4 linked regions of the Homo sapiens genome follow. The protein of the gene in region 1 interacts with the protein of each later gene in a pairwise test. Each region holds a gene or a part of one and is shown in the gene's direction. Other genes may lie near its edges.

Region 1 (7,983 bases):
GGTGGTGCATGCCTGTAATCTCAACTACTCAGGAGGCTGAGGTGGGAGGATCCCTTGAGCCCAGGAGTCTGAGACCAGCCTGGGTAACATAGCAAGACCCCATCTCAAAAAAAAAAAAAAAAAAGAGGTTTGAAAGACTAAGAGTAACTCCTAGAAGTACCAGAGTTATTCTTAGGGAAGACGACATTGAGAACATCTGACATGAGCTTTATTAATTTGAGGGTTTGTCTAAGAAATAAAACTTGAAGTGTGATGGAAGGGAGGGGATAGGGTATCTTCCATTTCTCTTTAGGCCGAGAAATAATAACAGCCTTTTGACAGATATAAATGTCTTTTCAAGATATATTCATGTTACTACTAATCATTTACTGTATTATTATTAATATCAGCTTTGTGTTTAAACTTAACATAATTTAAACAAAGTAGGCCAGCCACAGTAGCTCATGCTTGTAATCCCAGCACTTTAGGAGGCTGAGGCAGGTGGATCACTTGAGGTCAGGAGTTCGAGACCAGCCTGGCCGACATGGTGAAACGCCGTCTCTACTAAAACTACAAAAAAATTAGCTGGGCATGGTGGCGTGTGCCTGTAGTCCCAGCTGCTGGGGAGGCTGAGGCAGGAGAATGGGGTGAACCCAGAGCCGAAATCATGCCACTGCACTCCAGCCTGGGTGACAGAGCAGAGCAAGACTCTGTCTCAAAAAAAAAAAAAAAAAAAGGAAAATAGTGAAATCTATATTGTAGAGTTGTAATGAGGGTTAATAGAGTAGACCTAGTAATGTTTAGTGACAACATCAAGTGCCCATTAAATGTAGCTATTTTATCCCACTTGGTTTTCCTAAATCCTAGACTTTGGAGCATTGCTGAAGGTATTTTCTGGGCATCCCTATTTAATTAATTTGTGTATTTGTTTGTTTGGCCTTCATAAATGAGATGAGACTCACCAGTCAATTTCTGTATGTTGTGCTAATTGGAATATGCTGATTGGGGATCACCTGCTCCTTTTGCAGAAATTGCCCTGTCTTTTCCATCTCTGCTCACTGAAATAACCTTCTTCTTTTCCTTTATAGATATATGTAATCGACAGTGCAGACAGAAAAAGATTTGAAGAGACGGGTCAGGTAAATAATTCTTTTTTATATCAAAGTTCTTATATATATATATGTATGTACTTTTTTTTTTTTGAGACGGAGTTTTTGCTCTTGTTGCCCAGGCTAGAGTGCAATGGCATGATCTCGGCTCACCCCAACCTCCGCCTCCCAGGTTCAAGCAATTCTCCTGCCTCAGCCTCCCGAGTAGCTGGAATTAGCATGCACCACCACGCCTGGCTAATTTTGTATTTTTAGTAGAGAGAGGGTTTCACCACATTGGTCAGGCTGGTCTTGAACTCCCGACCTCAGGTGATCTTCCCGCCTCAGCCTCACAAGGTGCTGGGATTACAGGCGTGAGCCACCACGCCCAGCCTAGTATATTTTTTAAATACTAATTCTTCTGTTGAGATAGTTCCCAAATAACTGGGTATTCATTAATCAACCTTGTAAATGTGTGAGAGTGAGGGAGGTTTTTGTTTTGTTTTGTTTGTTAACCTTTACAGTTCAAACAAGACAGTTATTCTAGCAAGCAGGCAAAAATACCAGTTGTCTGAAATTAGTTGAGAGTTCTTTAAACAGTTTTTTTTTCCCCCCTCCAAAACGGAGTTTCACTCTTGTCACCCAGGCTGGAGTGCAATGGCACAATTTCAGCTCACTGCAACTTCAACCTCCCAGGTTCAAGTGATTCTCCTGCCTCAGCCTCCCAAGTAGCTGGGATTACAGGCGTGCGCCACCACGCCCGGCTAATTTTTTTGTATTTTTAGTAGAGACAGGGTTTCACCATGTTGACCAGGCTGGTCTTGAACTCTTGACCTCAGATGATCCACCCACCTCAGCCTCCCAAAGTGCTGGGATTACAGGCGTGAGCCTCCATGCCCAGCCTAAACAGTTTTCTAATTAAAGCTTTTTAGCTTTAATCAAATTGAATATATGAGATACAGACAAGTGGAACTTAGCACCATGCCCAAAGGCTCTTCAGGTTTTTTCCCAGGCCATGTGAAAACGAACCCAGAGGAACAAGTCACTTCTCATTTTTATTTACATTTTTCAATACCTACTTAATTGATTCAGGGGTAACTTTGACAAATCTGAAAGGACAGGAAAAAATGCACATGCCAAGGGCTGGGTGCGGTGGCTCGCGCCTGTAATCCCAGCCCTTTGGGAGGCTGAGGTGGGCAGATCACTTGCAGTCAGGAGATCAAGACCATCCTGGCTAACACAGTGAAACCCTGTCTCTACTAAAAACACAAAAAATTAGCCAGGTGTGGTGGCACGTGCCTGTACAGTCCCAGCTACTCTGGAGGCTGAGGCAGGAGAATCACTTGAACCCACTGCAGAGGTTGCACTGAGCCGAGATTGTGTCACTGCACTCCAGCCTGGGTGACAGAGTGAGACTCCCTCTCAAAAAAAAAAAAAAAAAAAAGTTTTTTAAAAAGTTATCATTGCAGAGTCCTTGGCCTGTGTCCTAAATGACCACAGGTGGCCTTCCAAAGGTAGCAGTTCTCATGTTTATGTCCCTTTTTTTGAAATTGAGTTGAGAACTCTCCAGACTTCTGGAAACAACCCACCACCCTTCCATACCCTGATGATTTCTGGATTATCACTCATGTGAAATGAGCTTGGAGGTGGAGGGGGTCCTATGTAGTCATCTGCCTCTTGATCCATACAGTTCTCTTTGAAAGCCCATGTGTTTTAAGTAGCTAAAATGTGGATTTAATGAGGAAAAGGTGGGGCCTATCATTTAAGTACATATACACCCTTTCCTATAGTTTTTGTAAACAAAATCACATATAGTTTAGACCCCAACCTATAACCTAAATATCAGGGACCTTGCCAGATGGACCAATAAAGTTATTTTAGGATGTAGGTTTGATGAAATGTGAAGCATGTGCATGCATGTTTTAGAGATAGAGATTGATGAAACAGAATTATCTCTAAAGTAATTGTCATTTTCAGTTTAAATTTCATACACACACACACATACACACACACACACGCATTGAAAGTTATTTGCAGGTAATAACCTTGGGTAAGTTTTGAATCTCAAACCACTTCTTGTCTTCTCCCTTGAATGATTTTCTCAAAAGTGTTCTATGGGCCAGGTGTGATGGCTCATCGCTATAATTCTAGCACTTTGTTAGGCTGAGGCAGGAGGATCCCTTGAGCCCAGGAGTTCAAGACCAGCGTGGGCAATATATCAAAACCCTGTCTCTACAAAAAAAAATTTTTTTTTTCCAGGCAGAATCTCACTCTGTCACCCTGGCTGGAGTGCAGTGGCATGATCTTAGCTCACTGCAACCTTTGCCTCCTGGGTTCAAGCAATTCTCCTGTCTCAGCCTCCCAAGTAGTTGGGACTACATGTGCCCACCACCATGCACAGCTAATTTTTGTATTTTTAATAGAGACAGGGTTTCACCATATTGGTCAGACTGGTCTCGAACTCCGCCCACCTCAGCCTCCCAAAATGCTGGGATTACATGGGTGAGCCACCGCGCCTGGCCAAAAAAAATTTTTTTTTAATTAGCTGGGCATGGTGGCAATCACCTGAGGTCCCAGCTAGCTGATCAGGAGGCTAAGTTAAGCATTGCTTGAGCCCAGGAGGTTGAGCCTGCAGTAAGCTGTGATCGCACCACTGCACTCCAGCCTGGATGACAGAGTGAGATATTGTCTCAAAAAAAAAAAGTGATCTGTGAATCATCTGTAGCGGAATCACTTCAGGAGTTTGCTAAAAATGTGGATTCCTATGCCGGGCGCGGTGGCTCACGCCTGTAATCCCAGCACTTTGGGAGGCCAAGGTGGGGGGTGGATCACAAGGTCAGGAGTTCAAGACTAGCCTGGCCAAGATGGTGAAACCCCGTCTCTACTAAAAATACAAAAAAAATTAGCGAGGCATGGTGGTGGGCGCCTGTAATCCCAGCCACTTGGGAGGCTGAGGCAGAGAATTGCTTGAACCCGGGAGGCGGAGGTTGCAGTGAGCCGAGATCGCGCCACTGCACTCCAGCCTGGGCAACAGAGCAAGACTCGTCTCAAAAAAAAAAAAAAAAAAAAAAAAAAAAGTAAATTCCTGAGCCCTAGCTCAGACTTTCCAAAGTCAGCATCTCTGGGTTGGGCCCAGGAATCTGCCAGGGGAATCTTATACAGGTTCAAGTTTGATAATCAGACTGAGCACGGCGGCTCACACCGTAATCCCAGCACTTTGGGAGGCCAAGGCGGGCAGATCACTTGAGGCCAGGAGTTCAAGACCAGCCTGACCAACATGGTGAAAACCCATCTCTACTAAAAATACAGAAATTAGCTGGGCATGGTAGTGTGCACCTGCAGTCCCAGCTACTCAGGAGGCTGAGGGGTGAGAATTGCTTGAACCTGGGAGGTGAAAGGTTGCAGTGAGCCGGGATTGCGCCACTGCACTCCAGCCTGGGCGACAGAGCGAGACCCTGTCTCAAAAAAAAAAAAAAAGAAAGAAAAAAAAAAGTTTGAGAATCACTACTCTTGAAAGTTGCTAGTTGATCAGCTTAACTGTTATTTTTTTTTCTGATTAGAACTGCATGGTTGTCCGGGCATGGTAGCTCACGCCTGTAATCCCAGCACTTTGGGAGGCCGAGGTGGGTGGATCACCTGAGGTGTGCAGTTCTAGACCAGCCTGCCCAACGTGGCAAAACCCTGTCTCTACTAAAAATACAAAAATTAGCTGAGTGTGGTGGTGCATGCCTGTAGTCCCAGCTACTCAGGAGGTTGAGGCAGGAGAATCACTTGAACCTGGGAAGCGAAGGTTGCAGTGAGCCGAGATCACGCCATTGCACTCCAGCCTGGGTGACAGAGTGAGACTCTGTCTCAAAAAAAAAAAAAAAAAAGTAGTGTATGGTTAAATATCATAGATGTATAGATTTTAACCTTCCCTCCCTCTCCCTTCTCAAAATCCAGGAACTAGCGGAATTACTGGAGGAAGAAAAACTAAGTTGTGTGCCAGTGCTCATCTTTGCTAATAAGCAGGATTTGCTCACAGCAGCCCCTGCCTCTGAAATTGCAGAAGGACTGAACCTGCATACCATCCGCGACCGAGTCTGGCAGATCCAGTCTTGCTCAGCTCTCACAGGAGAGGGCGTTCAGGTGAGATTACAGGAAGGCTTGGCCACCTGGCAACATGACAGCTAACCGAGGTGGTCTGTCTCATTGGTTGGGCTGATCTTGATGGGCAGATGAGCCATTCCAAGATATGAAGGGCATGGAGGAATTTGGTTCTTTTCTGCTTAGCAACCAATCAGATATCATGAGGTGCCCCAACAGTGCCCCAGGTAAGCCACCCCACATGTGCAGCAAGCTTCCCCTTTGGGAGGGATGTGAGAACAGAAGACTGAGGATTGTCTCTAACTCTAGGATTCTTTGATGATTGATTGGATTGGGGTTTTGTGTTGTGTCTAATATTACGGATGCTAAAATGCCTGTACTTCCAAGGTGATAGCCACCAATAACCATACACGTACTAGTCATCCTAGAAGTGTTTTTGTTTCTTCTGTTGGTTATCTTCCCTACCCCTAGGGTTGGTGTCTGTTTCCTGCTACTTCAGGTTGGTTTCCCACTGGGAGGCTTCTGCTGACAGAAAGCCCCATGCTTTGTACTGAGGAACTGTGTACCGGAAAAGCAGGCTCCCCCTAATTTTTTTTTTTTTTTTTTTTGAGACGGAGTTTCATTCTCATTGCCCAGGCTGGAGTGCAGTGGCACAATCTCGGCTCACTGCAACCTCCGCCTTCCAGGTTCAAGTGATTCTCCTGCCTCAGCCTTGCAAGTAGCTGGGATTACAGGCATTCACCACCACACCCAGCTAATTTTTTGTATTTTTAGTAGAAACGGGATTTCGCCATGTTGACCAGGCTGGTCTTGAACTCCTGACCCCAAGTGATCTGCCTGCGTCAGCCTCCCAAAGTGCTGGGATTACAGGCATGAGCCACCCTGCCCGGCCCTGGCTGCTTTTTAAAACATCAAGGCCAGGTGCAGTGGCTCATGCCTGTAATCCCAGCACTTTGGGAGGCCGAGGCGGGTGGATCACCTGAGGTCAGGGGTTCGAGACCAGCCTGGCCAACATGGTGAAACCCCCGTCTCTACTAAAAATACAAAAAAAATCAGCCGGACATGGTGGTGCACACCTGTAATCCCAGCTACTTGGGAGGCTGAGGCAGCAGAATTGCTTGAAGCTGGGAGGCGAAGGTTCCAGTGAGCCAAGATCGCATCACTGCACTCCAGCCTGGGCGACAGAGCAAGACTCTCTCTCAAAATAAATAAATAAATAAAAATAAACAATCAAAATTTGTCTAACATATTTTACTCCGATTGCACATAGGATGGCAGTCATAAGGCCTAAGGTTATTTTGATGAAGATGAGACCCAAGAAAAGATAGTAATTTTCTTGTGTTTCTGAAAACCACTTCAGCATGAGCCTGTCTAAAAGGTTTAGATGACAAATTTAGAAAGCTGAGAGTAGCCGGCTGTGGTGGCTCACACCTGTAATCCCAGCACTTTGGGAGGCCGAGGCAGGCAGATCACGAGGTCAGGAGATCGAGACCATCCTGGCTAACACAGTGAAGCCCCGTCTCTACTAAAAATACAAAAAAATTAGCCGGGTGTGGTGGCGGGCACCTGTAGTCCCAGCTACACGGGAGGCTGAGGCAGGAGAATGGCCTGAACCCAGGAGGCGGAGCTTGCAATGAGCTGAGATTGCACTACTGCACTCCAGCCTGGGTGAAAGAGTGAGACTCTGTCTCAGAAAAAGAAAAAAAGAGAGAGAAAGCTGAGAGCATCTTGAGGTTGGGGGCTATTATGAAGGTGGGGCTGAAGAAAAGCAATATAGTTTGTGTGCATATTCGTAAGAAAGTGCAAGTACAGCTCTGGAATCTTTCTTTTGCTTGACCAGAGTGTTGAAGAAAAAGCAAAGCGAGAATTAACAGTAAGCCTCTTGTATCTTCCACCAGCCTTAGCGATGTGAAAAAGGAGAACTAGAGTAATCTAGAATCAGTATTTAGAGCCGTGGCATTTAAAGTCAAGGACACTGCTTCAGAGAAGCCTGGAGGTAGAGAGGGATCTCCTGTCATTTTCTTCCCAACCCCCAGCCCTCCCCCAACTCCCATCAGGTGGAGATTAAAGGATAGAACTCCATGCTCCTGGCTGTGTAACCACCGTAGACAGTGCCCTTCACGGGATCTTTAGGCCACAAAAGAGGCAGCAAGCTACTAGGCAGCTAGAGGGTGGGGTTGGGGACAGGCAGGGGAGCACTGCAAAATAAACCAGTTTGAGTGAGTAAAGTGAGATTATTATATATGATTTGATTTTGATAAGAAAGTTCTTCCCAGATTGGGGCCTTCAGCAACCAAGTTCACAGGAAATGATATCAAGAGAGATCCAACAAAAAACTATGAGCAAAAAATAAAAAATGATTTTTGTATGGAGGAGAAATAGTTTGAAGGTCACTTAATTAGTTTAGTAGATAGTACCATGGTGTATAGAATTGGGTAGTTAAGACTGGGATTTCAAGGTTAATGAGATTAGATTATGGTTAATAGAATGATATAAATTTAGAGAATTTAACCATTATTTGAAATGGGTTATTTAATAAAAATGTTAATTAAGAAGGGAATCTGCTGTCTATTGTCCTTTCGTGGTAACCTTTGGGGACTAGAGAAAGGTCATGGAGTTTTGCTGTGGAAGCGCTTTTCACTGTGAGCCACTGGTTGACCGTGTACCTCCCTAAGGTGGTGCCTCTGACCCAAGCTCTTGTCCACACACCAGCTTCCTGGTTTTTGCCTTAAAAAGAGTCACTTAAGTGGAATTCCTTTCCAGCATTGCTTAGTTGAAGTACAGGCCTTTAGTAATTTTTATTTATTAGGGCTAAAAATATTCTAAAACT
Region 2 (7,983 bases), on another chromosome or scaffold:
GCTGATACCTTAAGGGGAATGCAAATCTGTATTCAACATGTTTTTAAATTTTGAAAACTTTGTATTTTTTGTTTTATACTGAAAATTACCTGTAAATCATTTTATGTTTTAGGAGCTCCAAATGGACCAGCAGGCAAAGAAACATCTGCAAGAGGAGTTTGATGCATCTTTAGAGGAGAAAGATCAGTATATCAGTGTTCTCCAAACTCAGGTAAAAGAGTAAAAGAAAAAGTGTGGAATTTTTTGGATAAAGAAAAATAGAGGGGGTTTGATTTGGATATCTGCAAGGTTGCAAAAGTTTTTTCTTTTTTAAGACCTATTTTTAAAACTTTTTGCTTTCCTCAATTTTTTTTATTTTTAATTTTTTTTGAGACAGAGTCTTGCTCTTTCACCCTGGCTATAGTGCAGTGGCGTGATCATAGCTTAACTGCAATCTCAAATTCCTGGGCTCTAGCAATCCTCCAGCCTCTGCCTCCAGAGTGGCTGGGAATACAGGCATATGCCACCACGCCCAGCTAATTTTTAAATTTTTTGTAGAGATGGGGTCTCACTATGTCGCCCAGGCTGGTCTCAAACCCCTGGGCTCAAGCGATCCTTCCGCCTTGGCCTCCCAAAGTGTTGGGATTATAGGCATGAGCCACCACTCCTAGCTCTTCAGTTAATGTTAAGGATACTTTTTTATTTATTGTATCTTTTGACTAACTGCATAATAATAATAGCAAATATAAAAACCAGCTGTATTGGGAGTAAACTTTTTATTTTGATTATTTTCCCCCACTTTAGTAAGAAGAATATCATTTAATCCGTCCTCTCTCTGTTTTAAATAAAGTACAATAAGCCATCCACATTGATGTGTTTTTGTATGTGTGGATTCAACCAACTGGATCAGAAATATTTAGGGGGTGAAAACCATGTGTAGTGAACATGTAGACTTTTTTTCTTCTCATTATTTTCTAAAATATATGTAGTACAACAACTACTTGCATAGCATTTTCATTATTTAGGTAGTTTATGTAATCTAGGGATGATTTAAATTATACTGGAGGATGTGTGTAGGCTATATGCAAATACTACACCATTTTATATAATGGACTTGAGCTCCTGCGGATTTTGGTATTAACAGGGAATCCTGGAACCAATCCCCCACAGATACCAAGGGACAATTGTACTACTCCCATAGTTTTTTTTGACTTTTTTCTAATGAAGCACATTTATATTAGGTTTCTCTACTGAAACAACGATTACGAAATGGCCCGATGAATGTTGATGTACTGAAACCACTTCCTCAGCTGGAACCACAGGCTGAAGTCTTCACTAAAGAAGAGAATCCAGAAAGTGATGGAGAGCCAGTAGGTAAGCTTCATTTTGTCAAAAGGTTAATTTAAAAACTAGAGGAGAGCCAGGCTCCTTGGCTTACACCTTTAATCCCAACACTTTGGGAGGCCAGTGTGGGAGGATCGCTTGAGTTCAGGAGTTTGAGACCAGCCTGGGCAACATAGAGAAAACCCTTCTCCACAAGAAAAACAAAAACAAAAATGAAACCCCAAGAAAACCTAGAGGAGGATTTTGAGAGATTCCAGGATGTGAGCTGATAGATATGGGCTGAGGTAGAAGTGTCCGTGGTCCTAATAGTTTCAGAAAGATGCAAGGGTTTGTTTTGTTTTTTTGGTTCTTTGTTGTTATTTAGGAGAAAATAAGTGTTTTTTGTTTGCTTGTTAGTTTGAGATGGTGTCTCACTCTATTGCCTAGGCTGGAGTGCAGTAGCATGATCTCGGCTCACTGCAACCTCCATCTCCTGGGTTCAAGCGATTCTCCTGCCTCAGCCTCCCGAGTAGCTGGGATTACAGGCACACACCACCATGCCCGGCTAATTTTTGTATTTTCAGTAGAGACGGGCTTTCACTATGTTGGCCAGGCTGGTCTCGAACTCCTAATCTCAAGTAATCTACCTGCCTCAGCCTCCCAAAGTATTGGGATTACAGGTGTGAGTCACTGTGCCCAACCAAAAAAGTTGTTTTAATATGCAAAAATTTCATAGTCTGTAACACCACATTTTCATTGTAATTGAAATTCATTTATTATGCTACACTGTTTTATTAATAGCAGTAGCTAGATTTCATATGAACAGGTCAGTTCTGCTTACATGCTAATAAGTGGGCTATTTGTAATTGTTTGGATATTTTAGTTTTTAAATATTGCTTAAATAGTTCTATATTCATAGATATTTGTATTTGTCCTATTAATTGCTTTTTAACTGGAAAAAGAAGAAATAGCTATATTTTGTCTTAAAATTCAGTTACAGCCTTCTTTGCTTTGAGGCTTGAGGTATATACGCAATAAAATTCCCGTCTTTTATTTCCTAGCTTTTTCTTTCAAAGGGACTTATGATAAACTTGGAGTAAGTAGTTGAGCAGTTAACTATCTGAGCAACCAGACTATGGTGGGGTGGTGGGGCGGCGGGGCCAGTCCCGAAATTCCCAGACATGTGGAAACTTCAGACTCATAAATGTAAAGAGATGGAGAAAGTTGCACTTACCAGAACTCCTCTCAGAAAGAGATTAGAATGTGGTTGGAAAGAATACCGTACTTTATTAATCCTTTTGGGAGGTGAGCTAAGACACATAATTTTGAATAACAAAAGATGATTATCAAACTGTCATTTTAAGGAGGGTGGATTCAGTTAATGTTAGTTAACTACTGTGCCATTCTGAATGGGGTTGAACCTCAAAGAGGTGAATTACTACTAAGCTTCTTCAGATAAAGATTAAACAACTAATACTAAGTAGAGGTTTGGAAGGGTGCCAGTTTATTAGCTGACTAGGGTTGTCCCTTCTTCATCTAAGAGTATAGCAGAATATTGGTGTAAGAATACACTCCTGGTGGGGCGTGGTGGCTCTCACCTGTAATCCCAACACTTTGGGAGGCTGAAGCAGGCGGATTGCCTGAGGTCAGGAGTTCGAGACTAGTCTGGCCAACATGGTGAAACCCCACCTCTACTAAAAATACAAACAAGTTAGCGAGACGTGGTGGTGTGCGCCTGTAATCCCAGCTACTTGGGAGGTTGAGGCAGGGGAATTGCTTGAACCAGGGAGGTGGAGGTTGCAGTGAGCCGAGATCATGCCACTGCACTCCAGTCTGGGCGGCAAAGCGAGGCTCCGTCTCAAAAAAAAAAAGAGGGAATACACACCTGTGTAGTAACAGACTGTTCCTGGAAGTGTCCTTATATTTGTAACCGCCCAAAGGGTTCACCTTGCCCACTGCCTAGACAGAGCTGATTTATCAAGATAGGGGAATTGCAGTAGAGAAAGAGTAATTCACGCAGAGCCGAGTGTGCACGTGACCAGAGTTTTATTTTACTCAAATCAGTCTCGCCAAGCATTCACGGATCCGAGTTTTTAAGAACAATTTAGTGGGTGGGAGGAAGCCAGTGAGCCAGGAGTGCTGATTGGTCAGGTCAGAGATGATATCATAGGGAATCAAAGCTGTCTTCTTGTGCTGAGTCACTTCCTGGGTGGGAGCCACAAGATCAGATGAGCCAATTTATCGATCTGGGTGTTGCCAGCTGATCCATCAAGTGCAGGGTCTGCAAAATATCTCAAGCAGTGATATTAGGAGCAGTTTAGTGGTGGTCAGAATCTTGTAGCCTTCAGCTGCATGACTCCTAAATGATAATTTCTAATCTTTTGGCTAATTTGTTAGTCCTACAAAGGCAATCTAGTCTCCAGGCAAGAAGGGGGTTTGTTTGGGAAATGGCTTTTATTGTCTTTGTTTTAGACTATAAACTATAAACTAAGTTCTCCCAAAGTTAGTTCAGCCTACACCCAGGAACGAACAATGACAGCTTAAAGGTTAGAACCAAGATGGAGTCGGTTAGATTAGATCTCTTTGACTGTCTCAGTCATAATTTTCCAAAGGCAGTTTCATATTCCTTACTGATGGGCCCTTCTTATGTTGCTTTATTGTTAGTGGAAGATGGAACTTCTGTAAAAACACTGGAAACACTCCAGCAAAGAGTGAAGCGTCAAGAGAACCTACTTAAGCGTTGTAAGGAAACAATTCAGTCACATAAGGAACAATGTACACTATTAACTAGTGAAAAAGAAGCTCTGCAAGAACAACTGGATGAAAGACTTCAAGAACTAGAAAAGATAAAGGTAAAAGAGCAGATGAGTTTTGTTCTAATTTAATCTATAAAGTTAGATCCACAGGCTCCACAGCATGGCTTGTACCTCCGGGAGAGGAGAGTGGATGGAAAGGGCATTTTTGTTTGCCCTGGCCTACATAACACCAAACCTTGAGACTTACTGTGTACTTTTTTCCTTCTGCACTGTAACATGTATATAAATTAGATAAATGTTTAGAGTTCTCAAATGAGAAGAAGCTTTATTAGAGATGGAAATGAATTTAAAAATTTTTTTTAGGACCTTCATATGGCCGAGAAGACTAAACTTATCACTCAGTTGCGTGATGCAAAGAACTTAATTGAACAGCTTGAACAAGATAAGGTAAAACAACAAAACCTATGATACTAAAATTTGTCAAGAGGCCCCAACATTTACTTTTGGAAACAGTTGGAAACATTCATGCTTGTTTCTGTTTTCTAAAAATTATTGCAGCTTTTTCCATGAAAAATCTTTAATTTCTAGATTTTTGTAACTACTAGCATTAGTTTTGTGTCATGTAAAACTGATTCTCTGATTTCTTGATCCCAGTCAGCATTATGATTTGTAGACTAGAATAACTGTTGCAAAGGAAGTTTATATTTATAGTACATAACTACTTTACAGAGAAAAGTTATTTATAGTTAAGGCATTATAAATGTGAATGATATCAGTATGTTCTTTCAGATAATATGGAAACAGATTAATCTCTCAGATAAGTTGCCTAACAAATAAATAAGGGGCTGGGCACAGTGGCTCATGCCTTTAATCTCAGCACTTTGGGAGGCTGAGGCGGGAGGATTGCTTGAAGCCAGAAGTTCAAGATCAACCTGGGCAGTAAAGCAAGACCTCCTCTCTACAAAAAAAAAAAAAAATTAGCTGGGTATGTTGGTATATGCCTGTGGTCCCAGCTACTCGGGAGGCTGAGGCAGGAGGATTGCTTGAGCCCAGGAGTTAGAGGCTACAGTGAGCTATGGTCACACTAGTGTACTGCAGCCTGGGTGACAGGGTGAGACCCTGTCTCTTAAAAAAACAACAAACAAAAATAAGTGATAATGTATATATTAGCATAAATAAAAATGTCTACAAATGAATTTTAGAATGTGTAGATGAGATTAGAGGATTGAGGAAGGAATGAGTCTTACCTTTGGTAGTTTGGAGTTGGAGCAGCAGCTAAAGCTACGCAGCAAAGACAACCAGAAAATTCATGGGTAAACAGTTTTGACCTGTCTTTCAGCTCCAAGTTCTTGGGTCCTTTTTCTAAGCAGCTCCCAGTTTGTTCCATAGCATCCACCATTTTCTTTAATATGCCGGGTTATCACTAGAGTATTTTAAGTGGTCACGTAATTAAGAACATGTCAGAGCTGTCCTGCTGTTAAAATGTATTGGCAATCTTTTTCATCCTTTTGATAATACTGCTTTGCTAGATTATACACTTCTTGAGGGCCTACTTAAATTGTTTTTTTTTTTAAATATTATAATGAAGAACTTAAAACATTTACAAAAGAAAAGCTGCTAAAATGAATTTCTTTGAACCCACCACCCCGCTTCAACAGTTAACATCTCATGACTAATCTTGTTTCATCTGTACCTTCTCAACTGTCATTGTCCTACTCACCCAGAATTGTTTTAGAGCAAATCCAAGAAATTTTATCATTTTTTTCCAAAAGTATTTTAATATATCTTTAAAATAAAAGACATTATTTTTACAATACTATAACCACATTATCATGATCACATCTAAAAATTTAATAATTTTAAAATATGACCTGCTATCTAGTCAGTTTCAGATTTTCTCTAGTTTCTCATATATTTTTTGCTCTTTTATGAATCAGGGTCCAAATAAAGTTTTTTCATTGCAATTGGTTGATATGACTCTTAAGATTTCTTTTAATTTACTGGTTTGATTATCTTCTCTCCTTCTCTTTCCACTATATTTTGGTTTTTGAAGAAACTGAAAGCCCATGATTTTGTTTTGAGATTTCATATAGCAGTGCCTCACTTACGTGGTTGTTATCTCTCTGTCTCTCCATTAATATTAGCCATCTGGAAGAGTCATATTCTAAAGCAAGGGTTGGCAAACCCTGTGGAGAGGGTGCTAATCTTAAGACCATGAAATTGTTGTCACAAAGTCTGAACATTTTTTCAAGAGACAAGTGAACCACCTCATTTTTTGTTAGTCCTAAATGACTTTTTTACTGTATACCATTTAGTTGTCTTTTTCCCCTGCCGACCTCCATTTCTAGTGTAGATTATCCAGAAAGAGGGAACAGAAGTAACTAGCAAGTTGGAGGAATGGAGATGCCTTACAAAGTAAGGAATAGTGGTGGTACCAGAGACAGTCACAGGAAGAAAGAGAAGAACCAGGTAGATGTGTCCTGGGATTTTGCTTTATCCAGTGTGGCAGCAGGCACCTTCCATTCTCAAGTGTCTGGGGTTATCCCCATGTTATAGTACAGATCAATACTTGTAGTTTATTGTAGTGCCAAGCCAGGTTCAGAAGACTATATTTTGTTCATTATAAACTGTTTACTAAGACAGATAGCACATTTGTAGAAAGGCTATAAAATAAATCTTTTAAGTAATAATGTTTTAATGCTTTAAGGATTAAACTATTAAAATTTTTAATGTAAAAAATACTGTTATGCTAGGTAATAGGATTAGAGCAGAAAACAGACCTCAGTTTGTGAAGTATTGAAATAATTGTTATGCTGTACTTAGCAAGAAATATCATTTTTTCTGCCTTTTATTTTTTGTTTTTTAATTTTTAATTTTTTTTTGAGACGGAGTCTCACTCTGTCACCCAGGCTGGAGTGCAATGGCGTGATCTCAGCTCACTTCAACCTCTGCCCCCTGGGTTCAAGCAATTCTCCTGCCTCAGCCTCCTGAGTAGCTGGGATTACAGGCATATACCACCATGCCTGGCTAATTTTTGTATTTTTAGTAGAGACAGGGTTTCGCCATGTTGGCCAGGCTGGTCTCGAACTCCTGATCTCAGGTGATCCACCCTCCTTGGCCTCCCAAAGTGCTGGGATTATGGACATGAGTCACCATGCACCATGCCCGGCCTTTTTCTGCCTTTTAAATTAAGTTTTATCTGTGCTGTTGATGATGCAGTTTTGTTATGCAAATGTTTTAGAGTCTTCACTTCTATTCAGGGAATGGTAATCGCAGAGACAAAACGTCAGATGCATGAAACCCTGGAAATGAAAGAAGAAGAAATTGCTCAACTCCGTAGTCGCATCAAACAGATGACTACCCAGGGAGAGGAATTACGGGAACAGAAAGAAAAGTCCGAAAGAGCTGGTAAGAACTTGAGGGTTACTTGTTTTATGTTGGAACTCAAAAGTTATTTAAAGTGCTTGACCAGTATTTTTAAAAATGAGTTAAATATTGATAAAAATTCTTAACTATAGAGGCTCCTAATAAGACACCCATCTGCTCATTAGAGGAGGCAGAGGTTGGCAAACTGTGGCCTGTGGGCCAGATCCAGCCCACAGCCTATTTATGTACAGCCCTTAGGCTAAGGATGATTTTTACATTTTTAAATACTTGAACAAAAGAAAAATATATGACAGAGACCATATGTGGTCTACAAAACCTAAAATATTTATCATCTGGCCCCTTACAGAAAATGTGTGCTGACAGAGTATCAAAATTCAGATTTAAAATTGTAGAACTTCCCAGTAGGTACAGCATGGTACTTATTAAATAATTGCTACCTTATAGATGCTTTAGGGTAAACAAAAAGTCTAAGTTATAGTCTGCTTTTAAAGAGAATAATGAACACTTCAGTGTTAATAGCATGTTTTGACACAATAAA
Region 3 (7,983 bases), on another chromosome or scaffold:
GGCTGAGGTGAGAGGATCAGATCACTTAAGCCTGAGAGGTTGAGGCTGCAGTAAGCTATAATTGCACCAGTACACTCCAGCCTGGGCAATGCAGTGAGACTCCATCTCTAAAATTAAAAAAAAAAAAAAAAAAGGAAGAAGAAGAAAGTAAGTTGGGTTCTTTTCCACTTTGTGTTAATACCGGTTGTGTGGACACACAGCAGCAAGCTTCCAGTGCCCCTCCCACATGGCTCTGTGTTTTTGACTTAAATGTAGAATCACTGGCTGTTAGTTGATGTAAACACTTACACCGCCACATCTGAAAAAGATACGGCAGATCTTCAGCTGCTCTGGGCTTCGGAGTGGACGTTTGCCTTGCACTTAATGCAGACTTGCTGTCTCTTCTTGATTTCTGGAGCAGGTTGGTTAGAGAGGGGCCCCACACATGGTCAGGTGGAATCTGTATTTCAGCAGAACCCGGCAGAGGGCATCACCAGAGGCTGCGTCAGGGCAGAGAGGTGATGGCTCTGGTGTTAATGAGGATCTCAAGGGATGCCTTCATTACCGGGCTCGTTGTAGAGCAGATGGGGTAGGAGGATGGAAAAATAAATGCACATTAAAACTGTGCACTTGGCTTGGAACCCCTCCCACTTTTTACATTGGTCCACAGTGAGGAGTTGTGCCAATTTTATACCAATTTTGGTTTTAAACCACACACCTCACCCTCTCTTGTCCCCTCCTATTCTGGTCTCATGATTCTGCAGTGAAGATCCCCTTGACTTCTGGGGAATAATGGGATCCACAACCTTTCTTGCCGCCTTCACCTGAGTCCCTATTTTATTTTTAGAGACTGAGTCTCACACTGTTGCCCAGGCTAGGGTGCAGTGGCACAGTCATGGCTTACTGCAGCCTCGACCTCCTGGGCTCAAGTGATCCTCCTGTCTCAGCCTCCCAAAGCACTGGGACCACAGACAGTCCCTGTTACTGATTTCTCAGTCCCCTGCAGCTTCCTCCCTCTGCTTCTCTTTCTCCTACTCTGACCCAGGCGCGTGATTCTACTGAACTTTTCCATACTGTACCGTCATCCATCCCACCTGGCAGTCACATTCTTCCAGGATTCCCTCTGTCCCGTCTTTCTGGGAACTGGTCTTGCCCTTACAAACCTTTCTCCTTCACAGCATGTTACACTGCTTTAAAAAACTCTTTTAGAAAATCACAAAGTAATAATATCCTGTTCTCTTTTTCTTTTCTTTTCTTTTTTTTTTTTTTTTTTTTTTTAAGACAGGGTCTCTCTCTGTCACCCAGGTGGGAGTACAGTGGTACAATCATAGCTCACTACAGCCTCAACCTCCTGGCTCAAAAGATCCTCCTGCCTCAGCCTCCTGAGCAGCTGGAACTTATAGGTACACACCACCACGTCCAGATAATTTTTTTATTTTTTGTAGAGATGAGGTCTCGCTGGTCTTGAACTCCTGGGCTCAAGCGATCCTCCCGCGATCCTCCCGCCTTGGCCTCCCAAAGTGCTGGGAGTACAGGCGTGAGCCACTGTACCCAGTCCCTGTTTTCTTTCTTGCACTTCTGCCTGCCATTTTTCGCAAAGCTGTGGCTTTCGAAACTCCGGTGTTTTTTCCTCTCTTGTGCTCCTTTTTCCCTGGCAAACCCCTTCACACTGTGTGCCCGGGATCTTCCACTGACTCCTTCTGGCCCTGTCTAGTTTCCTCACTGCAAAACACACACGTGTGTATCTAAGAGGACATGTCTCCAAGGTCCAGCCAGCCATCAGATCTCAAGGCGCCTGTGACTCTGTTTTTCTCTGCTCATTGCCTTCTACCTCTCATCTGTTGAGAAGCCTTCATAGTTGCCTTCCCTCGGCACTCCAGATTCCAGCACTCTAGGGGCTAATGAAAGACTGTCCCATTTGTCACAATGGTTTCTAATCATTAAAAAGTGAGACGCCAGGGGCGGTAGCACACATCTGTAATCGCAGCACTTTGGGAAGCCAAGGCAGGAGGGTTGCCTGAGGCCAGAAGTTCTAGACCAGCCTGGCCAATATAATGAGACCCTATCTCTACATAAAATAAAAAAAATTAGCCAGGTGCAGTGGCACATGCTCGTAACCCCAGCTACTCGGAGGCTAAGGCAGGAAGATCAGTTTGGTCCAGGAGTTTGAGGCTGCAGTGAGCCATGACTGTGCCCCTGCACTCCAGCCTGGATGACAGAGCGAGACCCCGTCTCTAAGGAAAAAAGAGAGACAGTGTGCCCGCGGAGTTTAAATGAGGACATGTTGTTACTACTTTGGACAGTTACCGCGTTTTGTCATGGGCTTGTTCATTTGGGTGTGAACATATGAAGGAGGAAGGGGGTGTGGGAGCGTCTTGACCCATCGGTCACCATTGTCCACTCCATGGCCAGAATCAAGGGCCAAGAGTGCCTGAGGAGGTGATGCAGCTAGTTCTTTACATAGGTTGTATTGTTTTCTTTATTTTGAATATTGTCTTGTAATCAGAAATCATCTGGAGTGATGTTTCATTTAGTTATTCTTCAGCTGAAACCTGAGCCTTTCAGTTCTTCCTCACTTCTGAAGTAATTCAGGTTCAGAGCATATAAACATGTGTTTGCACATCCAGATACAACCCCAAGGCTTACTGAGGTTCACCTGATTCGAATATCTGGCGTGTTTCACAAGGAAAGAACCTCCTGCTGTATTTTTAAACGTGTGTGGAAAGTTTTCCATGGTAAACGGAAATCAGAGAATCAAAGAATGGTCAAAAAAACATGAATCAAAACAAAATGATGTCAATTGTGTCATGGCTATGGTTAGTCTAACCCTGAACCCAAGGAGTCATTTCAAGTAGCAGCAAGTGCCTATTTTATTAAATCCCCTGGACAGATGGACTTGGAATCCAGGCCTAAATGCTGTGTGCATCTCATTTGGGCTCTGCTTCTGAAGCGTTACCCTCCCATATAATGGATGGTCATTTGCAGAGATTTTGCACAGTCGCGATAGCACGTGGGCAGGTCTTCTCCACCGCAGCACTCAGTATTTGGGGCTGCGTGTTTCTCTGTGGTGGGGCCATCCTGGGCACTGTTGGATGTTGAGCAGCGTCCCTGGGCTCCACCCACCAGATGCCAGGAGCACCTCTCCTCCCTTAGTTGTAACAGCCAAAAAAGTCTCCAGACGTTGCCTAATGCCCCCCAAGGAGTCACAGTCACCCCCCGCCCCCGCCACGTTGAGAATTGTGCCATCAGGGATAGCACTTTCTGTCAAGAATAAATGGCCTTTTTGTCCTCAATGCCCCAATTGGGTTTGACACTCAGAACAACCATCACACTTAGTTCTTACCAACAGTTTGTCGTGTCCCCTTCCCTGCCCACCGTGGGATCCCTTCACCCCAGGCTCCAGGTCCATGCCGCTTCCCCCGTGGCCCCCTGGTTGCTGGGAGCCAGCTGTTTACGCCCCACTTCCCTGCGCTTCTCCTGCCCAGAGAGCAGAGGCCATTCCCAGAGCCCTCACCCCCGTGAGCTGACAGCTGTACCTTGGCTTGCTTCCCCAGGATGGCACAGTGTTCGACGGCCGCCCCATAGAGTCCCTGTCACTGATAGACGCCGTGATGCCCGACGTGGTGCAGACGCGGCAGCAGGCATTCCGAGAGAAGCTCGCTCAGCAGCAAGCCAGTGCGGCGGCGGCGGCGGCTGCGGCCACGGCAGCAGCGACAGCAGCCACCACGACCTCAGCCGGCGTTTCCCACCAAAATCCATCGAAGAACAGAGAGGCCACGGTGAATGGGGAAGAGAACAGAGCACATTCAGTCAGTGAGTGCAGGGGCTCTGGGAGTTCGGTGGGCCTCTCTGGGTTCATTGTTTTCTTCTTGGGCAAATCCGAATGCCTTCTTAAAAACCTGCCTGCTATAAATGTCTTAGAAGCTGCTCTCTAGTGTTTGCTTACGATCTGGCCGGAAGAACTTCCCGTTCCATTTTTTCCATCACAACCCTTGGACCTGAGCTTCTTCACCCTCATCTTCAACTTTAGGAAATCGTGCTGCGCCTGCTAATCTGAGAACTCTCATGTAACACATGATTATTGCCCGTGATAAACAAAAGTGTTTCATTCATGGACACCTTTAGTCTCAGCCTCCAGCCTTCCATGTTGAGGGTTTTTGGCCAAATTATGGTATAATTATTGAGCTTGCAGTTCCTGCCAAGGGCACTGGGCCCCAGAGACTGGGCATAGGCTTATTTGGTCTTTGCAAAACCCCAGGACATCAGTCCCTGTTAGGTGATTGCCTGTGAGTATGTGGCCAGTCAGAGAGCCCAAAATTCTACCCAGAGAACCTGCTCCACTTAGACATACTGCTCTATACACCCGTAGGGACGCCACTTCAGGGTGCAAGTTCAGAGCGAGCATATGTGCCGTGCATGGCGCACCGTGTGCGCGCATGCACTTGCATGCACAGGTATGCATGGGTGCATATGTATGTTGTACATGTGTATATCTGCATGTGTATGTGCCTGTGTCTGTGTGCAAGTGTGTATGCATGCGTGTGCGTGTATGTGTGCGTGTGTGCGTGTGTGCGTGCACGCGTATATGCGTGTGCGCACCTGTGTTCCTGTGCGTGTGTGTGCACAAGTTTGTGTGCGTGTGTGTGCGCACGCACGCACACCTGTGCATGGTGTAGTGTATGTGTGTGTGTTCTTCCTTATTTGAAAGTTGTTGCCCTCGGAGCAGCCATGCAGCCCAGCAGTCCTTGAAGATCGAGCTGACTATGACGTTGCTGTCTTACCTGGTACGTCTTGGCTCCACAACTTCCTGGTGTGTAGAGAGCCAGCCGGCTGCCTCTGATGAGGCTGCAGCCCGAGCCAAGCCCTGTGACAAGTTACCATCCACAGGCACCAGCTAAAAAATTCTTGGAGAAGCAGATCCAGCATTTAATGGAAGGTTCACAGATTGTTAATAACGTTTCTATTGCAATAGGGTGACAGAAAGGCCACCTGCCTCAGGTAAAAGGAAAAGACCTCTTACCAGCCTTCTATTGATAAGGTCCACAATTGTGGGGCAGGAAAAGAAGAGTCTGGCCCTCCTCCTCTGTGCATGTGGCCAGAGTTCACCCTGGTTGAACTTCTGGAACAGCCACCCCAACCCCCTTCTCAAACCCTGCATCTTGTGCCTGACCCACAGCCCAGTCTATGGAGACAGGAGCATTGGAAGGCCGCATTTTGATAAGAATGAAAATACTGGCTGTCACTCCTGCCTGGAGTTACCAGGCCCCCTGCCACTGCGTGGCTGGCTAAGATGCCAGTTTCCCTCTTGCCATCACCAGGGACAGTGGGTCTGCCACATGCAGAAAGATGTTTTTCCTCTCTTCCAGCCAGATGACACTTTCAGAGCATGGAAGAAACACCAACATTGAAGAGTCCCATTGTTGTTTGAATCTTTTGTATCAGGCTTCTCGAGCTAAGCAGGACCACCAGGCGTTTTCTTATTTTTTACATAAACAGCACTCCTACTCAGTGACACGTAACCTAAGATCACATTGCTTCTGTTTCCTGGGTTTTCCACCAGAGCACCTTTACGAAAGACATATGACAAAGCATGCTCAATTCCTCACCGTATTGTGAAACTGTTAACCATGGCTAATTGTTTGATGATCAGGCTATATTGCTCCTTTCTCAGGAGCATAAACCAGGGTCTAGCAAACTTTCTTTACAGGGACAGACAGTAAATGTCCCAGGCTTTGAGGGTCATGCAGTCTCTGTCACAGCTGCTGAAGTCTGTCAGAGTGCAAAAACAGCTGTGAGAGTCAGCTCAGGCTGCCGTAACAAAAGGCCACACACCAGGCTGTTTAAGAATTTGCTCTCACAGTTCTGGAGGCTGGAGGACCAAGATCAAGGTGTGGGCAGGGCTGGTTCCTTTGCGAGGCCTCTCTCCTTGGCTTGTAGAGACTGTCTTCTCTCCATGTCTTCACGTGCTCGTTCCTCTGGTTGTGTCTGTGTCCTGATCTCCTCTTCTCATAAGGACACCAGTCCCACTGGGTTAGGGCCCACCCTTGTGACCTCCTTTTACCCTGCTCACCTTTTCAAAAGCCCTATCTCCAAATACAGCCACATTCTGAGGCCCCTGGAAATTGGGGCTTCAAGATATGAATTTTAGGGGGACATAGTTTAGCCCATAACAGTAGCCATAGACAATTTGAAAACATGGGCAGTGGCTGTGTGCCAGTCACACTTTATTTATGCAGAAGCAGCCAGGGACTAGGTTTGGATCATGGGCTGTAGTTAGCTGGCCCCAGTTACAAAAAATAACTGTCACCCAGGCTGGGGTACAGTGGCACAATCATAGCTCACTACAGCCTCAATCTCTTGGGCTCAAGTGATCCTCCCACCGCAGCCTCCTGAGTAGCTGGGACTACAGGTGTGCACCACCAGGGCTGGCTAACTTCTTGTTGTTGTTGTTGTTGTTGTTTTTATAGAGATGGGGTCTTGCTATGTTGCCCAGGCTGCTGTTGAACTCCTGGTCTCAAGCAGTCCTCCCTCCTCAGCCTCCTGAGGCACTGGGATTTTAGGTGTGAGCCACTGCACTTAGCAAACTGTTTTTATTCCTCAATGAAATTTAGAGACTGTCAAAATGTAAAGAAACCTAAAATATTTACTAAATTGCACTAAAGCCACGATTTCGTTAGAATCATCAGAGGTAGGCCGGGCGTGGTGGCTCACGCCTGTAATTCCAGCATTTTGGGAGGCTGGGGCAGGTGGATCACTTGAGGCCAGGAGTTTGAGACCGACCCTGGCAACATGGTGAAACCCCGCCTCTACTAAAAATACAAAAATTAGCCTGGTGTGGTGGCACATGCCTGTAATCCCAGCTGCTTGAGAGGCTGAGGCATGAGAATTGCTTGAACCTGGGAGACGGAGGTTGCAGTGAGCCGAGGTCGTGCCACTGCACTCCAGCCTGGGCGACAGAGCAAGATTCCGTCTCAAAAAAAAAAAAAAAAAAAGAAAAGGAATCATCAGAGGTAGTATTTAGTACATAAAAAAAATGTTTCTGGAAACAAAAGAGCCCTTTAAGTGTGTTTCTCTTGTATTGGTAAGCCACTTGTCTCTTTGTGTTTGCTGTGACAGATAATCACGCGAAGCCAATGGAAATAGATGGAGAGGTTGAGATTCCATCCAGCAAAGCCACAGTCCTTCGGGGCCATGAGTCTGAGGTGTTCATTTGTGCCTGGAATCCTGTCAGTGATTTGCTAGCCTCCGGGTAAGGATGTCAGGGTGGGGGGCGCTCCAGAGTTGGGGAGATGGGAGATGCAAGCTGCTCGCCCTTCTCTGGAGTTCTGCCTAAAGGAACACACACTCCCCTTCTTACCCCGGTGTGTGGGCAGACCAAGGAATGGGTGGCTCTATGAGCCACTTCTCTACATGTCTCATATTGTGGAGAAGCCATAGTTCCAAGTCGTTTTCTCCATGTGGTGGTGAGGAACACAGCAGCACTTAAATTACCAAATGCAAAGATGGCAAAGAGGGAAACAGGGATCCAGAGGGATGAAAAAGACAGAAGAGCATGTGCTGAAGATGCCCTCTGGCCAGAGAGCAAGCTGTGGAGAGCTTCTTATCCCATTTGAACCAAACACCAGAGGCTCCTGTGTTTTTATTCTGTAGATCTGGAGACTCAACTGCAAGGATATGGAACCTGAATGAGAATAGCAACGGGGGCTCCACCCAGCTCGTGTTGAGGCACTGTATACGAGAGGGGGGCCATGACGTCCCGAGTAACAAAGACGTCACCTCACTGGACTGGAATGTAAGCATCTTCCACCCCCTGGGCACTTTGAAATTGGTAAAATCGGCCAGCCACCAGGCAGGGGCTGCAGCAATGGAGCCCATGCAGACATAGGAGGCAGGTGGTCCTGTGTGCTCAGCCCCCACTCTGATGGGCTGCCAGAGAGGTGTTCTTGGCTTCTTTTTTTATTTTGAGACGGAGTCTTGCTCTGTTGCCCAGGCTGGAATGCAGTG
Region 4 (5,877 bases), on another chromosome or scaffold:
ACCGAGATCGCACCATTGCACTCCAGCCTGGGCAACAAGAGAAACTCCAGCTCAAAAAAAAAAAAAAAAAAAAAAAAAGAAAGAAAGAAAAAGAAAACAGGAGGATTGGGCTATTTCCACATCAGGGTCCCATTTAATACCCCCTTAAAACATCAGCTTTCCTTCCAGAGACTGATCATTGAGAAAGCAGTACTGCTGACATAGATCCTGCCTACTTATAAATCATAATGGTTGGTAATCTCCATTAAAAAGAATAAATTTTCCCCACTGTGGTTCAGATGACGAGTTCCAGTTATTACAGAGAAATTTCATGGACAAGTACTACCTGGAGTTTGAAGACACAGAAGAGAATAAACTCATCTACACACCTATTTTTAATGAATACGTAAGTAGATTTCTATGTCTCCTACCAGGAGGTCAGAGTTTTTAAAAATTTAAATTTAGATTCAAAAGACATTGAAATTTGCTGCCTTTTAAAATATGCCACCAGTACACTTCCAGGAATCCTCATTAGCATCTGGTTTAAGTTCATTTTCCTCTGCACAGCCTTTGGGGCTATTTTCCAAAAGGCTTTCAGGCAAATATTTGATTAACTCATCAGCTTCTTATTTAAAAGAAGTTTGACCTGGGCTTGGTAGCACACCTGTAGTGCCAGCTATTTGGGAGGTTGAGGTGGAAGAATCACTTGAGCTTAGGAGTTTGAGACCAGCCTGGGCAACACAGCAAGATCTCTGTCTCTAAAAAAAAAATGATAATAATAAAGATAATAAATAAAAGACGTTTGGCTTATCATAATCCTGCTTTTAATCACAGTACATGAGTTCTTCATACCTTGCATTTGCATGCTTTTGACAAACCTTTCTGCTTTCACATACTCTTTCTTTCTTCTATATAATCCAGTCATATATGCATGACTATTAAGTAAAAGTGAAAACTGAGACCAAGATCACTAACTATTTGGTGGAAAAACCAAGACTGGAACCCAGGAACCTCAGCTCGTCACCCTTGGGTCTCTACACTTTACCCTGAGGCCTCTTAACAGCCCCCTGGGATTCTGTCATCTAAGAATCCATTTTGGCCTCCAGGACTTTATTTTCTTAACACAGAAGCATGGCATAAACAAACCTGCCCAGAAGGAACCTGTGACTGCCTCCATGTCCGTATGTTCTGTTACACAGATGCCCTCTACCCAGGAGGCAAAGCCCCCACTTACTGCATCCTGCACTGGGTTGTGGGTGTGGGTACCGTGCTACTCACTGTCTCCACCTGTGTCAGAGCATCCACCCTGTTACAGCACCATTATCAGCTAAGGCTTCTCTTCCACACCAGGCTGAGTACTTCTCCAGGACAGGAGCTGTGTTTTGGTCCTCTTTGGTATCCTTGGCACTCAGTGTAGATTGTGGCACACAGACCTCAGGAAATGTTTAGAAAGGGCTGGGCAGGCTTTCTGAAAAGAAGTCTTGTTTTCCCAAAGTATGGTCTCACCAAAATCCTTTCCACTGTTGCAGATTTCTTTGGTAGAAAAATACATTGAAGAACAGCTGCTGCAGCGGATTCCTGAGTTCAACATGGCAGCCTTCACCACAACATTACAGTGAGTTGAGCTTGACTGATTTTTGTGTTTTGTTTTGTTTTCTCACTTTCTTCCTTCCCTAGGCTGACCAAAAGACGCTCCTTGTTTGTTTTCCTGTGCATGCCGTTGGTGGTTAGGTCCTATGGAGGAAGCCCTCAAACCTTTTAATGAAATCTTGAAAAGATCAGGCATTGGCTCACGCTTGTGTTCTCAGTGCTTTGGGAGGCCAAGGGAGGAGGATCACTTGAGCCCAGGAGTTCAAGACCAGCCTGGGTGACATAGTGAGGCCCCGACCCTACAAAAAATAAATTAGTCAGGTGTGGTGTTGCATACCTGTGGGCCTAGCTACTCAGGAGGCTGAGGCTGGAGAATCCCTTGAGCCCAGCAGTTCAAGGCTACAGTGAGCTATAATTGCACCCCTGCACTCCTGCCTGGGTGACAGAGCAAGACCCAGTCTCTAAAAAAACAAAACAAAAATAATGCGGGGGGTGGGGCTGGGGTGGTGGAAAGAAAAACGAAAGCAATCTTGAGGACTGTCTCATCATTCATTCACGAAACAGCCATCTGTTCCGTTTGCAGGCACCATAAGGATGAAGTGGCTGGTGACATATTCGACATGCTGCTCACCTTCACAGATTTTCTGGCTTTTAAAGAAATGTTTTTGGACTACAGAGCAGTAAGTTACTACTCCTATTTATTTAGCCACTTTGAGCCACTTAGAAAATTCCAGGTAGAAATACCGAACATGAACCTCCCACGCTTCCCCCATCATTCTCCCTTCAAACTGGCCGATGAGGCATCAGAAGAGTGAGCTGCTATTCTGTTGTGGCTGGGACCTTCTCATGTTTTCATGAAACAAGCCCAGGTACCAACTTAGAGTTCCTAATCAGAAGGACAAAACCGAAAAAGCAGGTCTCAGGTCTCATTCTGCCTTGCCTTTCTTTTATTTATTTTTTTTTTTGAGACAGAGTTTTGCTCTTGTCACCCAGGCTGGAGTGCAGTGGCACCATCTTGGCTCACTGGAACCTCTGCCTTCCAGGTTCAAGCAATACTCCTGCCTCAGCCTCCCGAGTAGCTGATACTACAGGCACCTGCCACCACGCCCAGCTAATTCTTGTATTTTTAGTAGAGACAGGGTTTCACCATGTTGGCCAGGCTGGTCTCAAACTCCTGAAGCATGGTCCGCCTCGGCCTCCCAAAGTGTTGGGATTACAGGCGTGAGCCACCGCACCTGGCCCTGCCTTGCTTTTCATATAATGCAAGCTCTTTATAAGAAAAATAGGAGACTGGGCATGGTAACTCACACCTATAATCCCAGCACTTTGGGAGGCCGAGGCAGGCAGATGGCTTGAGCTCAGGAGTTTGAGACCAGCCAAGGCAACATGGCAAAACCCTGTCTCTATGAAAAATACAAAAATTAGCTTGGTGTGCTGGTGTGCATCTGTAGTCCCAGTCAGCTACTTTGGGGGCTGGGTGGGAGGACCGCTTGAGCCCAGAAGGTTGAGATTGCTGTGAGCTGTGATTGTACTGCTACAGTCCAGCCTGGGTGACAGAGTCAGACCCTGTGTCAAAAAAAAAAAAAGAAAAGAAAAAGAAATGGTGTTGGGTGTGGTTGTGCATGCCTGTAGTCCCAGCTACTTCGAAGGCTGAGGCAGGAGAATCACTTGAGCCTAGGAGTTTGGGGCTGTATTACACAGCAGTGGTGCCTGTGAATAGCCACTGCACTCCAGCCTGGGCAACATAGCAAGACCCCTATCTCAAAAAAAAAAAAAAAGAAAGAAAGAAAAATGTTTTCCAGTGAAGGGAGGTACATTTTAAGAGTGCATTTTAAGAATGACCAGGGCCAGGCTGGACACAGTGGCTCATACTTACAATTCCAGCGCTTTGGGAGGCCAAGGCAGGAGAATCACTTGAGCCCAGGAGTTCAAGACCAGCCTAAGTGACATATCAAGACCCTGTCTCTACAAAAATAAAAATAAAAAAGTTAGTCAGCTGTAGTGGTGCACACCTGTAGTCCTAGCTACTCAGGAGGCTGAGGCAGGAGGACCACTTGAGCCCAGGAATTCCAGGCAGCAGTTAGCTGTGATCAAGCCACTATACTCCAGCCTGGGTGACAGAGCAAGACCCTACCTCTTTAAAAATAATATTAAAAAAAATTAAGACTAGGGCAGGCCAGTATTGAGCAGAAATGCAGAATAACCAATAACCTGTGTTCCCTTCCTATGTACTCTGGAGGTCCACGTTCCCACCTTCAGCTCTGCCTTCCCCATGTCAGAGGCAAGATTCCAAGCCAGGGCTCTTTCTAGTCCTTCCTTTGGTTGTTTTCTCATATAGGAAAAAGAAGGCCGAGGACTGGACTTAAGCAGTGGCTTAGTGGTGACTTCATTGTGCAAATCATCTTCTCTGCCAGCTTCCCAGAACAATCTGCGGCACTAGGTCCTACCTCCAGCCAATGAATGGGATCATTCTGGATGTCACCAGCCCAATAGGCTCAGCTCATGATGACAGAACACATCTTGGAAAGACTGACTCTGTTATGTAACTCTTCATTTATGTTAAGTATTAATAGGTCAAAACCAAAATGACCTAACCCTCCTGGACCTATTTATCCTGAAACACCTTCTTGTATTCATTAACCATAGTACTCCTCCCCACCTCAAGTAGACACCTCTCTCAGGAGCTTCTGAGTCAGACGCCTCTGGAGCGAGCCCTATGTCAGGCACTCCACCTGGGGGGCCCTTCCCCAGCATACCTGCTGGTGTGTAAGTGTGGACTAACCCGCCGCCACCACCCTCTGTTCCAGCAGGCTCTGCATGAATCTTTGTGCACTTGCACCTCTTTTTCACATGGGCCACAGTTTCAGTACTTCAGCCTCAGTGGGGTTCCTGATGTTTATCTAGGGTGTTACTCAAGCCCAGTTTGAGATTTTGGAGTCTCCTGTGATCACATCTTGTCTCGGCTGTAGGAATCAACAGAAGGAGACGTCCTCTACATAAAAGCTCCATGTGAAAAGCTACTCCTAGTCTTAACATTTGCAGTCCTTGTGTCACTGTCTTCTGGTCCTGATGTAGTCCCACTGTTTCTAGAAGTCTCTTTTAAGCATTATTTTTGAAAAAAAAAATATTTTTATAGATGAATACTCAGGCTAACCTAGTGGATGTGATCTTGGAACTTCCATGATTATCCACTTAAAGATCAAAGTATTATATGCTGTGTGCTTTTTAGGTGTTTGTTAGTACTGTGAAGGCAAAAATGCTTTCTACATTGACATTCATTCCTATTTTACTGGGCACCTATGAATGTATGCTGTGTGCTAGAAATAGACTAAAACATATTCCTATAGCATGTTAGTGTGTTTGCATGTTTGCTGAAAATCCTTTGTGTATAAACCAGTTTGTAAGGTTCTCTGGGTTAGGTAGGGACTCTGCAGTTTCTTCCTGTCAAAATCTCTCCTACCAAGATGGTGTTCCACTGTCCAGCCCAGCATGAGTAGCAGGTAGAGCACAGCTTTACTGGCTGTTTGTATGCTTTGGTTTAGTGCAATGTGTGGTAGATTACTTATCAGAAAACATATATGTCATCTCTAGAACGAAGAAAAAGCATAGTAGTTCAATTCCCAGTGTGTCCCTTTGATTTTTTTTTTTTAATAGTAAAAATAAGAATCTGTACTGACTTTTCACTTGGCCATTCTGGTTTTAAAGGACAAGCTACAAGCTCTGTGTTTCTGTACTGATGTGTCACTTATTAAATACTTTTGTACCATGAGTAAAACTTCAGGTGTTTCGCAAGAACCACCATTCTCAATGAGTTGTATTCTTTCTTTAATGTAGCCACTGCCATAAGGTTATTAATTATTGCTTTGGTCTTTTTTTTTTTTTTTTAAATGCCACCTCTCCTGGGCTTGCTTTCCCTTGCTTTGTCTATAAATGGGAGGTCCACCACAGCCCAGGCATGCTGGGAGCACTTGCTAAGACCTGTGGACCAGCCTGCCTACTTGAGAAAAGGCCAGTGGACAAGTCCAGAGATTAAATGATGAAAAAACGATGATAAAGGCAAATTGGTTTTTCACCCTTTTTTTTTTCTTTTTTTTTTGGGAATGGAGTTTTGCTTTTGTTGCCCAGGCTGGAGTGCAATGGCACGATCTCGGCACACTGCAACCTCCACCTCCCGAGTTCCAGTGATTCTGCTGCCTCAGCCTCCCAAGCAGCCGGGATTATAGGTGTCCACAAACACGCCCAGCTAATTTTTGTATTTTTAGTAGAGACAGGGTTTCACCATGTTGGTCAGGCTGGTCTTGAACTCCT

The links.
Region 2: the proteins of ARL3 (region 1) and GOLGA4 interact in a two-hybrid assay, tested with the Homo sapiens proteins (one study listed by BioGRID).
Region 3: the proteins of ARL3 (region 1) and TBL1X interact in binary tests that used the Homo sapiens proteins (3 or more experiments, as listed by UniProt).
Region 4: the proteins of ARL3 (region 1) and ARL2BP interact in binary tests that used the Homo sapiens proteins (3 or more experiments, as listed by UniProt).

The regions. Positions count from the first base shown.
Region 1 is NC_000010.11:102,683,028-102,691,010, reverse strand, and holds part of ARL3 (ADP-ribosylation factor-like protein 3), read left to right. Parts: intron 1-1,067; coding exon 1,068-1,118; intron 1,119-5,009; coding exon 5,010-5,195; intron 5,196-7,983. UniProt on the Homo sapiens protein: Small GTP-binding protein which cycles between an inactive GDP-bound and an active GTP-bound form, and the rate of cycling is regulated by guanine nucleotide exchange factors (GEF) and GTPase-activating proteins (GAP).
Region 2 is NC_000003.12:37,294,867-37,302,849, forward strand, and holds part of GOLGA4 (golgin subfamily A member 4), read left to right. Parts: intron 1-112; coding exon 113-211; intron 212-1,220; coding exon 1,221-1,353; intron 1,354-3,966; coding exon 3,967-4,154; intron 4,155-4,421; coding exon 4,422-4,505; intron 4,506-7,318; coding exon 7,319-7,466; intron 7,467-7,983. UniProt on the Homo sapiens protein: Involved in vesicular trafficking at the Golgi apparatus level. May play a role in delivery of transport vesicles containing GPI-linked proteins from the trans-Golgi network through its interaction with MACF1. Involved in endosome-to-Golgi trafficking.
Region 3 is NC_000023.11:9,684,484-9,692,466, forward strand, and holds part of TBL1X (F-box-like/WD repeat-containing protein TBL1X), read left to right. Parts: intron 1-3,533; coding exon 3,534-3,792; intron 3,793-7,095; coding exon 7,096-7,228; intron 7,229-7,629; coding exon 7,630-7,771; intron 7,772-7,983. UniProt on the Homo sapiens protein: F-box-like protein involved in the recruitment of the ubiquitin/19S proteasome complex to nuclear receptor-regulated transcription units. Plays an essential role in transcription activation mediated by nuclear receptors.
Region 4 is NC_000016.10:57,248,259-57,254,135, forward strand, and holds the end of ARL2BP (ADP-ribosylation factor-like protein 2-binding protein), read left to right. Parts: exon of another isoform or gene 1-278; coding exon 279-385; exon of another isoform or gene 386-1,508; coding exon 1,509-1,594; exon of another isoform or gene 1,595-1,713; intron 1,714-2,152; coding exon 2,153-2,249; intron 2,250-3,445; exon of another isoform or gene 3,446-3,534; intron 3,535-3,907; coding exon 3,908-4,009; 3' UTR 4,010-5,377; downstream 5,378-5,877. UniProt on the Homo sapiens protein: Together with ARL2, plays a role in the nuclear translocation, retention and transcriptional activity of STAT3. May play a role as an effector of ARL2.